Linked DNA regions of Homo sapiens: region 2 is linked to region 1. The links come from fine-mapping of genetic effects on gene expression. A gene starts in region 1. The other region holds a variant in brackets. All regions are shown on one strand. Distances are from middle to middle.

Region 1 (5,442 bases):
TCAGCCCTGGCTGCTCCTTAGAATCTACTGCAGAGCTTTCAACACAGGCACCCCTCAAATACACCCACCCACCAGGTCACTGCTGACCCCCCTCTACTCGGACCACATCTCTCTGGGGCCGGAGCCGGCCCTGGGGTGTTTTAAGGTCACCTGGGTCTCCATGAGCTCCGTCGCTGTCCCCGTGTGCTCACCAGCTGTGCTTACCTCTCCACGCACTTAGGGGTGTGCTCTGCTCTCGAAAGTCCCCACAGCAGCCGCAAAGGAGGGGCCTGGTTGGGCCAATGTCAGCAGGGCCTCCTTAGCTCACCCTGACAATGGTACCCCCATTTCTCTGGCAGCAAACAAGGGGGAACTGACCCAGTTCAGTCTCCTGGGGTGCAACGCCTAAGCCACTCTCCCCTCAGCACCCGCAGGGGGCCTCTGAAGAAGAGAGGGCTGCAGGACACGTCTGCCTCTCCCCTCCGCAAACCAGGCTCTGCGGCCCCATCTCATCTGCTTCCAGGCTCCCTGGCCAGCTTGGGAACAGCCCCATTCATTCGGGGTACCCCTGGAACCTTGCCCCAGCTCCCACCACAAGTTGGGACAGGAAGCCCAAAGTGACTCCTACAGGGGAGGCCTGGCGGCACTGCACCCCAATTCAGCTTCTTGGGGTCCTAGCCCCCACCCTCCCATTGGGTTTCTGGAGTGGCTGGGGTGCCCTGCACACAACCTGCTCTTGTTTCTCTTTAGTCCCCGCAATGCCCGCTGCCCAGGGCTGCCTCCCGACCTGTAGGAGAAGGTCTCCAGGCCCTAGGCCAGCAGATGTACTCCTGTTGTGTCAGGACCCCAGCCTCCCCCGACTGCCCACACCCGCTGGCCTGACAAAGAGGAATGGGGAGCCCGGACAACTTGTGAATGAAAAAGCTTCTCACCTACTTGCCAGGGGCCTACCCCCTTCCCAGGCTGGTGGGGAGGTGAGGCCCATCCCCCTCATCCCTGGCTTCTCCTCGGCCACAGCTGTCCATGGGGTACTCCCGGCTGTGGGTGGTGCAGGGGTTGGGAGCTGGGAGGCCGAGGCCTGTGCTTCCCTCGGGCCTGTGCACCCGGCCGCACCATCCGTAACGCGGGCTTATGAGCGTGCCTGGCTGCTGGGTGGCCTGACGGGTGGACACCGAATGGGCCACTCTCTTCTCTGCTGGTAGAGGATGGAGGCCCAAGGTGGAGGTGCTGTCGGCACAGCTGGGGCAGACCAGGGGAGACCCCCTATCCAGGGATCCCCTCCTCCCCTCCCAGGCCGCCCCTCCGCAAAATGCTGAGGACTGGCCCCCGGGCCTGGGCTACATGGGCCATTACTTCTGGCCTGGGGCCCACAGGCAGAGATGCCAATGGAGGCACACAGGCAGTCGCACCCGCACCCGATCAGCACCAGGCCTGAGGCCTTCGGGCCTCCCTATGCCCCACCCCACCCCCACCCACCAGGAGCAGAGGACGTCGTGGTGGGCAGAGTCCTCAGCCTGGGAGCTGCACAGCCCCGCGCTTCCTTCTATGGAAAATCTGCTCCTCCAGGCTGCCTGGCTGCTGTTACATAAACATCTCTGCTGCCTCCAGGCGCCTCCTCTCCTGGGGCGCTGACCCCAAGATGTTACCCCAGGCCTGCAGAAGTGAGGCCAGATTCTGGGAGGACGCAGGCGAGGGAGGCTCCCAGCAGCAGCTACAGGGGCGGGACAGGCCGCCTGCACTGGCTGTTTCCAGAGTGCTCAGCATTTGGCAAGAGGTGTGCCAGGAAAGGCTTGCTGGGGTCAGGTGTGAGATTTGTCCTGCTTTCTGTGCCTGCCTCTGCCACCATGCTCTGGGGTTTCTGCAGCCCTCCCCCCAGGCCCCCACAGTCCTAGGTCCCTCCCAGCCTTTCGGTCTCCCCGCAGGGCAGGCTTAGCCCTCCTACTCCAGGAGGGGCGCCGGGACACGCGCCTTCTGCCATCGCACTCACCACCCTGTGTTGGGGTGGGGAGGGGGCGCTGTCTGTCCCTGGCACGAGGCCGTGAACTTTGCGCAGGGACTATGGCAGGCATTTTGGACTCCTGGCGCTTAACCAGGCTTGGCACAGGGTGCCCGTGCCTGGCATCGTGGTGGAGAAATAAATCAGCCGGAAGGAGCACGTGGGAAGGGCTGCGCCGGCGCCAGCGGCAGATCCGCCCGACCCGTTTGTGCTTTCTGGGGCCACCTTAGGCAGGCGGCGCCCGGGCAGGAGGAGGACGGTGACCGAGGAGCGTGTCGACGCGGGTCCCCCTTGGGGGAGCGGGGCACAATCCGTCCGCGAGGCACTGGTCCCGGCTGCTCCCTCGGGGCGCCCGGAGTCCCCTGCCCAGAGGCCGCGGCGCCCCCATCCCTCGCGGTCAAGTGCTCGGGCAATCACGGCCAGGGATGTCTGGCGGCGATCGATCCTCTGGACGCCTAAAGCCGCGGCCACGGGGCCCTCGGGAGGGAGTGAAGCCGCTGGGCTAGGGGCGCACACACGGCTAGGCCACTCTCCCAGAGCCCTGCCCCGGGCCCGGGGTCCCCCAACGTGGCCTCAGCTGCTCCCCGCCCGGCCCAGCGCACGGTGCACACGGCTGTCCGCGGCCTCGCCCTCCCCATTCCGCCCCGGGCTCCTCCGCTTATTCACATGCAAATTTCAGTCGCCAGTTGTCGCCGAGCGCGGCAACCGCCAGAGCCGGATCCTTCCGCAGCCCCGGCTCAAACTTTTGGCCTCTGAAAACTTTCAAACGAGAAGTAGTCCCAGGCGCCCGCTCCCGACCCACGCCGCGCCGCCGGGTCCCTCCTCCCCGGAGAGGCTGGGCTCGGGACGCGCGGCTCAGCTCGGGGAGGCGCAAAGGCGGACGGGGCGTGCGGGAGGAGGTGGCCGCGGAGGGGGCGGGGGGACCGGCGGGGGTGGGGCCGGGCGGGGCGGGGCCGGCGGGGGCGGAGCGCACCTCGACTCTGAGCCTCACTAGTGCCTCGGCCGCGGGAGGGAGCGCAAGGGCGCGGGGCGCGGGGCGCGGGCGCGGGCGCGAGCGCAGCGAAGGAACGAGCCGGGCGCGGAGCCGGGCCCGGGGGCCTGCGAGAGCACAGCGCCGCCAGCCAGCCGGGGAAGAGAGGGCGGGACCGTCCGCCGCCGCCCCGGGACCGTACGCCGCGCGTGTGCGTCCCAGCCCCGCCGGCCAGCGCAGGAGGCCGCCGCCCGGGCGCAGAGGGCAGCCGGTGGGGAGGCATGCCGCCGCTCCTGGCGCCCCTGCTCTGCCTGGCGCTGCTGCCCGCGCTCGCCGCACGAGGTAGGCGCCCACCCACCCGCGAGCCCCCACTTTCCGCGCCCTTTGGAAACTTTGGCGGCGCCCGGCGCGCGCGCCCCACGGCTGGGAGCGGGCGGCGGGGAGGCCAGCATGGAGAGGGAAAAGCGGGCGGCCCGGGGCGTGGGGTTCTGGAGTCCCGGGATCAGGGAGGACCGACCTTCCCCCTCGATCCCCCCGTGGAGGCGGACTCGCGCCGCCCGTGCCTGGAGCCGAGTTAGGAGGCCGGTGTGGGGTGCTGGGGCCCCGGAGGCCCTACTCCGGGCCCGCCCTTCACCCGCCGCGCGTGGGGCTTGCCGCCGGTCGGCCGGGCGGGCGGGCTGCCTACTATTTTTCGATTTGAATAGAGTCGGTTTTGGTTTCCTGTTGCTTCTCCGGGCCATTTATCTTCTTTCTTCTTCGCCTCTGGCCCACGCCGGGGCGGATGTTGGGGCGCGGAGTGTGGGCTCTGCGGCGCCGCGTTCGCCTTCACTGACCCGCGCGGCCGGGCTGGGTCCCCGGGCTCCCGGTCGCCCCGCCCGCCGGTGCCCCCCAGCCCGGCTCTCAGTTTGGGGGAGGGGTTGCGTAAGAAGCCGCCGCGCCCGGGGGGACTGAACTTTCCTTTTGCTTTGCGGAGTTGAAGTTTGGAAAGCTTGGGGGCGGAGAGCGGGACGCGGGTGGGGGGCTCTTACATTTCTCCCCGCCGCACAGCGAGCGGGGTCTCTGGGGAATCGAGTGATTAATCCACTCTTTCTCCGAGAGTTGGAGGCGAGAATTATCTGTCCTCTTCCAGAAAGTGCGGCTCTGTGTCACACCCCCCTCCCCCGTTTCTCAGCCCCGGTAAGATGGGGAGGGAGGGGCTTGAGTAATTGATCCCTTCTCGAGATGGGGTCGAATTCCTTCCGAATGGGGGACCTTCATCCCCCTCCTGTGGGTGTATGGGGGCTGCCCTGGAGATGCGCGCCCGCGGAGGCAGGTATTGGGTGTCGGCGGAGGCGGGGCCGCGTCCCCAGGGTGCTGTCCCGGTGCCCCTGGAGGCGGCCCCGACTCCACAATGGGCCGCTCTGATTCTGAGGCGGAGGCCGGCGCTTTGTTGGCGGGCGGGGTAGCGGGCGAGCAGCTGTCGCATTTTCCCACGGGCGGGAGCTGAGTGTGGCCACCCCCCCTCCCCCCGTCCAGCTCTGCCCCCTTGCAGAACGGGTTTGAACAGAGGCAATCTCGGCGGCTGGATGGGGGGCCCTGCCCTGCCAGACTCCTCAGTGAGCCTCCAGGGTGGGGGGCAACGCTTTGGAGAGTAGCCCACTTTGTCTCTGCTTTTCCCCCACTGCGTCCAGGCGGCACATCAGGCCACCCCACCCTGCTTCAAGCAGGACGTGTTCCCTGCTGCTCCCCTTCCCCCCATTTCTGACTACAGAACTCTGGGCAGAATGTTGACGCCCCTTTGGTTTCATGGAGGGGCTTCCTGCGGACCCGTGCCCCAGCAACCCATGATACTGAGCAGAGTGCGTCCGGGGTAGGGGGCGGACGATGCCCCTTGGCTGGGTGCAGGTCCCCGCCCCCAGGGTAACCAGGGCCTTCGGTGGTGGTGGTGCGGGTGAGACTGACCTCTCTTCTCCTGCCCCTGCCTAGGCCCGCGATGCTCCCAGCCCGGTGAGACCTGCCTGAATGGCGGGAAGTGTGAAGCGGCCAATGGCACGGAGGCCTGCGTGTGAGTACCACCCCTGCGGGACCTGTTGCTTTGTCGAGGGCAGAGCCCCTGCCTTCTGCAGCCGCGCAGGGGACAGAACACTAGGCCATTGTCTTCTGGAGATGGCCCAGAGTCTGGGCACGGTCACGTGCTGACTTTTATTGGACAAAGTCTGGCAATTACTTAATCACCAGCAATTATGCTGCGTGTGGAGCTGGTCTGGCTGCTGAGGGCTTGGGCACTCCTCCGTGGGCCACCTCAGGCTCCGGGGTCACTAAGTGGGAGTCCCAGTACCCCAATTCTTCTTTAAGTCCCCAAGAAACAGTTGATCTGCCAGGGGAAGCTCTGGACCATTTACTGAGAGGCCCAGCCCCCACCACCCTGCCAACTTGGGGCGCCTCCTCTGGGCGGGTGATGCCTCCTGGGCACAGGTGATGCCTCCTCTCGGGGGTGATGCCTCCTAGGTGGGTGGTG
Region 2 (5,265 bases), 44 kb after region 1:
TCGCTGCTCCCTGGTGGCAGCGAGGGTGGGCGGCGGCGGAGGGAGCTGGACCCCATGGACGTCCGCGGGTGAGTGAGACCCGGCGCCCACGGTCAATCCCCGCAACTCTCCTGGGCCCTCCCCGACGGCCTCCCTGCCCCTCACGGCCGGCGCCATGGCAAGCAGTACTCTCCCCACTTTATGGTAAAAGAGACGGAGGTTCCGAGAGGACCTGGGACTTCAGGGCCTGCGCAGGCAAGGAGTAGAGGCAGCATTCCAGCTCAGGGCCCTGACCCCACAGCCACACCCTTTTCCTGGGCCACTGCCTTCCCCTGGACAGGCGGCACTCCTGTGCCCAGTAGGTGATTTTGAGATTGAGCTGTGCCTTAGGCACTGGATACTACACTGATTAAAACTCAGCCCTCTGCCAGGCGAGGAGGCTCACACCTGTAATCCCAGCACTTTGGGAGGCTGAGGCAGGCGGAGCCCTTGAGCCCAGGAGTTCGAGACCAGTCTGGGCAACATAGGGAGACCTTGTCTCTGTTTTTTTTAAAAAAGTATTAAAAGAAGTAAAAAACAAAACACTCAGCTCTCCAGGGGTTCCCACAGGGCTGAACAGCCCCACCCCAGACAAGAATGCCGCTTGGTCATGGCGTCTGCCTGGCTTGGGCTGGAGAGGAGGCAGGTGGAGGTCCTGGGAGGGGGCATTGCTGGGCCTTGCAGTTGGAGGAGGAGCTGGTGGGGGTGGGGGGTCCCACGGTGGGAGAACACAGGCAGGAGCAGCTTGAGTGCAGGGGGCACCCCACAAGGCTCCCGCCCATGCCTACTCGATCTGGGGCAGCTGGACCCAGGAGCCAGGTTGGTTGTGCCCTTCGTGTGCCTGACCCTGGTGGGTTTGCCTGTCAGTTCTGCTGGCTTGGAGCAATCCTGGAGGTCAGAAGCATCATCTCACAGGCTGGATGGGATCCTGCTCACGGGAACCCAGTCCTGGGGAGCAGAGCTCACCCCCAGCCAGCCTCACCACACAGCCCACCACCGCTGCACCCACCCCCACCTCACGCCTGTGCTTCCTGCAGGGCCTGGGGATGGCTCCTGGGGGAGGACTGGGCTCCTGGCACATACTCTGTCCTGAGATGAGGAAACGTGTCTGTGGCACCAGCAGGAGCCAGAGAGGGTGTCAGGGCGGGCCAGGGAGAGCGCGTTGGTGGGTATCTGGGATGAGCCGTGATCAGCACTGGCCGGAGTCGGGGGGCTGGCACCAGTCCCCTGCAGGGTAGCTGCTGTCAGACCTGGCTTCCCACCACCCCAGGCTGCCTCACCATGTCCTGACTGTGGCGTCATGGGCCTCAGTGTCCTGCGGCAGCATCCCTGGCCGGTGGGCGGGGGAGGAGGAAGCCTCGGGTCCCAGCCCCTCTCTGATTGTCCGCCCAGCTCCATCGTCTACCTGGAGATTGACAACCGGCAGTGTGTGCAGGCCTCCTCGCAGTGCTTCCAGAGTGCCACCGACGTGGCCGCATTCCTGGGAGCGCTCGCCTCGCTGGGCAGCCTCAACATCCCCTACAAGATCGAGGCCGTGCAGAGTAAGTGTGGCCCCATCCCGGGAACAGGCTCTGCCTGCAGGGGGTGCCATCCCCCCGTGCCCCAGACACGCTGGCTGTTTGTGCCAGTTGCTACCCACGGGTGTGAGCGTTGCCGTCCGAGTTGGGGTAGGGCTTTTCTGGAATTTTCTGAATGGCACTCCGCCCCCACCTGCGGCGGTCACAGCTGCCGGTGGAGCCACCTGGGAACGAGTCCAGCCACGGGAAAGTGGGTGCCTGCTTCTCTCCCCACCCTTTCCTCCTGAATTTTCTTTGTTGGGTATTATTTCAAAATCATTACGGCTTTTTTTAAAGAAAAAAAAAGAGAGAGAGAGAAGAATTGATCGGTGTCATGTGAAGTGTTGAAGTTTGTATCTTGAAAATCCCTCTAAATCCTTTGTCTTAACAGCTCAGTGCGAGTGCAGCGATTTGAAGTTGACTAATCCTCCTTCCTTAAAGGAGAAAAAAGTAAAAGCCGTCTCCAGATAGAGTCGGCTGGTGCAGGAGAGAATTTAGCGATAGTTTGCAATTCTGATTAATCGCGTAGAAAATGACCTTATTTTGGAGGGCGGGATGGAGGAGAGTGGGTGAGGAGGCGCCCGGACGCGGAGCCAGTCCGCCGCCCCCCGGCCACCAGCCTGCTGCGTAGCCGCTGCCTGATGTCCGGGCACCTGCCCCTGGCCCCC[G/A]TGCCCGCAGGTGAGACCGTGGAGCCGCCCCCGCCGGCGCAGCTGCACTTCATGTACGTGGCGGCGGCCGCCTTTGTGCTTCTGTTCTTCGTGGGCTGCGGGGTGCTGCTGTCCCGCAAGCGCCGGCGGCAGCATGGCCAGCTCTGGTTCCCTGAGGGCTTCAAAGTGTCTGAGGCCAGCAAGAAGAAGCGGCGGGAGCCCCTCGGCGAGGACTCCGTGGGCCTCAAGTGAGCGGACGCCGCCCCTGCTTCTGGGTCCCCGGTGGGAGGTGGGACCTGGCCGAGCATCCTCACCGGGAGTCTGCCCCTCCCGACCCAGGGCCCACCTCCCACGCCAGGCCCGGGCCAGGGGTCTCTGGGGGCTTCCTAGGGAGCTCGCTCAGCCTCACTTCTCGACCCCTCACCCCCCAGGCCCCTGAAGAACGCTTCAGACGGTGCCCTCATGGACGACAACCAGAATGAGTGGGGGGACGAGGACCTGGAGACCAAGAAGTTCCGGGTGAGTCGCGAGGCTCCCGGGCTCCTGGGCTCCCGGGCACCTGCTGCCGGGCTGCCCTGACAGGCTCTGCTCACTCCCTCTATGTAGTTCGAGGAGCCCGTGGTTCTGCCTGACCTGGACGACCAGACAGACCACCGGCAGTGGACTCAGCAGCACCTGGATGCCGCTGACCTGCGCATGTCTGCCATGGCCCCCACACCGCCCCAGGGTGAGGTTGACGCCGACTGCATGGACGTCAATGTCCGCGGGCCTGGTAAGGGTGCCAGCAGCCAGGGCTTCCCTAGCCCCGTGGCCCACCTGCCTCTCTCCCCTAAGCCCCGAGGCTGGGGTACAGTTGATACTCTGGAAACTTAGAATTGGGGGTGAGAGCTTTCATCCTTGGGGTGTTTCCCATTCAGAGTAGACGTGGGGGGGTCCTGGAGTCCTCCTGTTCTTCCACCAACCCCTTCCTGGGGTGATACCGCAGGGCCACTCTGTCCCTGTAAATTACTCTTTTCTGAAACCTTCTTGAGACATGGAAAGCGTTGATTTTCTTTTTCTTTTTTTTTTTCTTTTTTTTTTGTTTTTGAGATGGAGTCTCGCTCCGTCACCCAGGCTGGAGTGCAGTGGCACGATCTCGGCTCCCTGCAACCTCCACCTCTCGGGTTCAAGCAATTCTCCTGCCTCAGCCTCCCCAGTAGCTGGGACTACAGGCGCCTGCCACCACACCTGGCTAATTTTTGTATTTTTAGCAGCGATGGGGTTTCACCATGTTGGCCAGGCTGGTCTCGAACTCCTGACCTCAGGTGATCCGCCCACCTCGGCCTCCCCCAGTGCTAGGATGACAGCGTGAGCCTCCGCATCCTGCTGAAGCATTAATTTTCTAACTGCATGCTTCTGGGGTCCTCTTTTTCCTGGGTGGATTTTGGGTGCCAGGTCTTGGGCAGGTCAGGAAGCAGTTGCCCGCCAGGAGTTTAAGCTGGATTCGGCTCTGTCCACTGAGCAGCCCAGGCGGACTTCAGCTGCCCCTTGGTGGCTGTGTGCACGGGGCCACCAAGTGCTGGGTGGTGCATCCACACCGTGGCCCCTTGAGCTTGGGGCTGCTGCCCCCCTCCCCCTGGGCTGCAGCTGGGGACCGGCCCTCCAGACTGAGCACCCGTCTCTGCCTCTGCAGATGGCTTCACCCCGCTCATGATCGCCTCCTGCAGCGGGGGCGGCCTGGAGACGGGCAACAGCGAGGAAGAGGAGGACGCGCCGGCCGTCATCTCCGACTTCATCTACCAGGGCGCCAGCCTGCACAACCAGACAGACCGCACGGGCGAGACCGCCTTGCACCTGGCCGCCCGCTACTCACGCTCTGATGCCGCCAAGCGCCTGCTGGAGGCCAGCGCAGATGCCAACATCCAGGACAACATGGGCCGCACCCCGCTGCATGCGGCTGTGTCTGCCGACGCACAAGGTGTCTTCCAGGTAGGCAGTGGCTGCCTGTGTGCCCACCTGCCCTCCTCAGGGCCGCCTGGTGGTCTGGGGCAGTGGCCAGGCTTACGTGGCCCTGGGAGCCTGACCCCGAGCACAGCTGAGTCCGGGACAACTGGTGCCTCCACCTGGGACCTTCGCAGTCAGCGAGGTGCGAGGGGGAGGGCGTCGGGCCCATCTGTGTTCTCCAGGGAAGTCAGGCAGAGGCGGGTCTGGCAGGAGGCCTGGGGGATCTGCTGAGTGAGGCAGCACCTCCCCACCCCCAGCAAAACAGGCTCCATCAGGGTTGTGGGCCTTGCTCAAGGTCCAGGTTCCACTGCTGCAGCCCCTCGCAGCCCCGCCCCTCCCTCAACCTTGGCTGCCGGCGTAGCCTGTGGCAGTGAGAAGCAGGGTTTAGAGGCTGCCGCTCGGTGCCTGCAGACCTAGGGCTCAGCTTGCCGGTGAGCTCGTGGCAAGAATGGATTTAGGGATTTGGATGCCTGGGTCTCCAGGGAGTGTCCCTGGCAGGGGCTGCCTTTGCAGTCACCCCTGCTGCGAGTCCCCAGGCTCCAGGCGGCCCTGGAGCAAGCAGGTTCAGATGGGCACAGCCCGGGGAGTTACCACAGAGCTTCTCATTTCCTGATTTCTTAGCTCAGGTGACACATTGTCATCTCGCAGAAATAAATGTAGGTGAGCAGAAAGAGCGTGGAAGGGAGCCCCGTGCGGGTTTGGTGTGTGCCTCTCTCAGCTGCCTTCTTTGCACAGATGTGGAAGTTCCCAGGTGCTTTGCAGGAATCAGGCCAAGTTGCCTTTTGCACCCGCCAGTGAGCAGGGGCCATTCCTCCTGCCAGATGCCAAGACCCGGCTGCATTACAAGGGCTGCCCACCCCCTCTCTGGGCAGAGCCGGACACTAGCTCGGCGGTTCTGAGACGGCTGTAGGGCCGTGAGCCCGGCTTCCTGAGTGCCAGCTGTAACCGCCGTTGGGGGCAGGGACTTGACCTCTCTGTTTTGTAGGTGGTCATGGCAGCTAGGACCACAGTGAGGATTAAATGAGGCCACACGTGGTCACGATGGATCCCACTGTCACCAA

The links. PIP is the estimated chance that this variant, and not a neighbour inherited with it, causes the effect.
Region 2: its variant is the best candidate, but not a certain one, in a credible set for the expression of NOTCH1 in whole blood (TOPMed, PIP 0.51).

What each region holds. Positions count from the first base shown.
Region 1 is chr9:136,543,571-136,549,012 of GRCh38, reverse strand. NOTCH1 (notch receptor 1) reads left to right here and starts at 2,965. Exons shown (of 34, transcript NM_017617.5): 1 at 2,965-3,287; 2 at 4,911-4,989. The coding sequence starts at 3,227. MIR4674 (microRNA 4674) reads left to right here and starts at 2,754; the gene lies at 2,754-2,840. NALT1 (NOTCH1 associated lncRNA in T cell acute lymphoblastic leukemia 1) reads right to left here and starts at 1,171. Exons shown (of 3, transcript NR_121577.1): 1 at 912-1,171. RefSeq lists enhancers at 1,197-2,108, 4,081-4,130 and silencers at 2,301-2,400, 2,741-3,300, 3,321-3,580, 3,801-3,850.
Region 2 is chr9:136,499,476-136,504,740 of GRCh38, reverse strand. NOTCH1 (notch receptor 1) reads left to right here. Exons shown (of 34, transcript NM_017617.5): 26 at 1-68; 27 at 1,411-1,559; 28 at 2,253-2,469; 29 at 2,653-2,740; 30 at 2,828-2,993; 31 at 3,894-4,189. Among named protein-coding and RNA genes, the nearest start is that of MIR4673, 18 kb to the left of the region's middle. The variant G/A (reference allele first, on the strand shown) is at 2,243.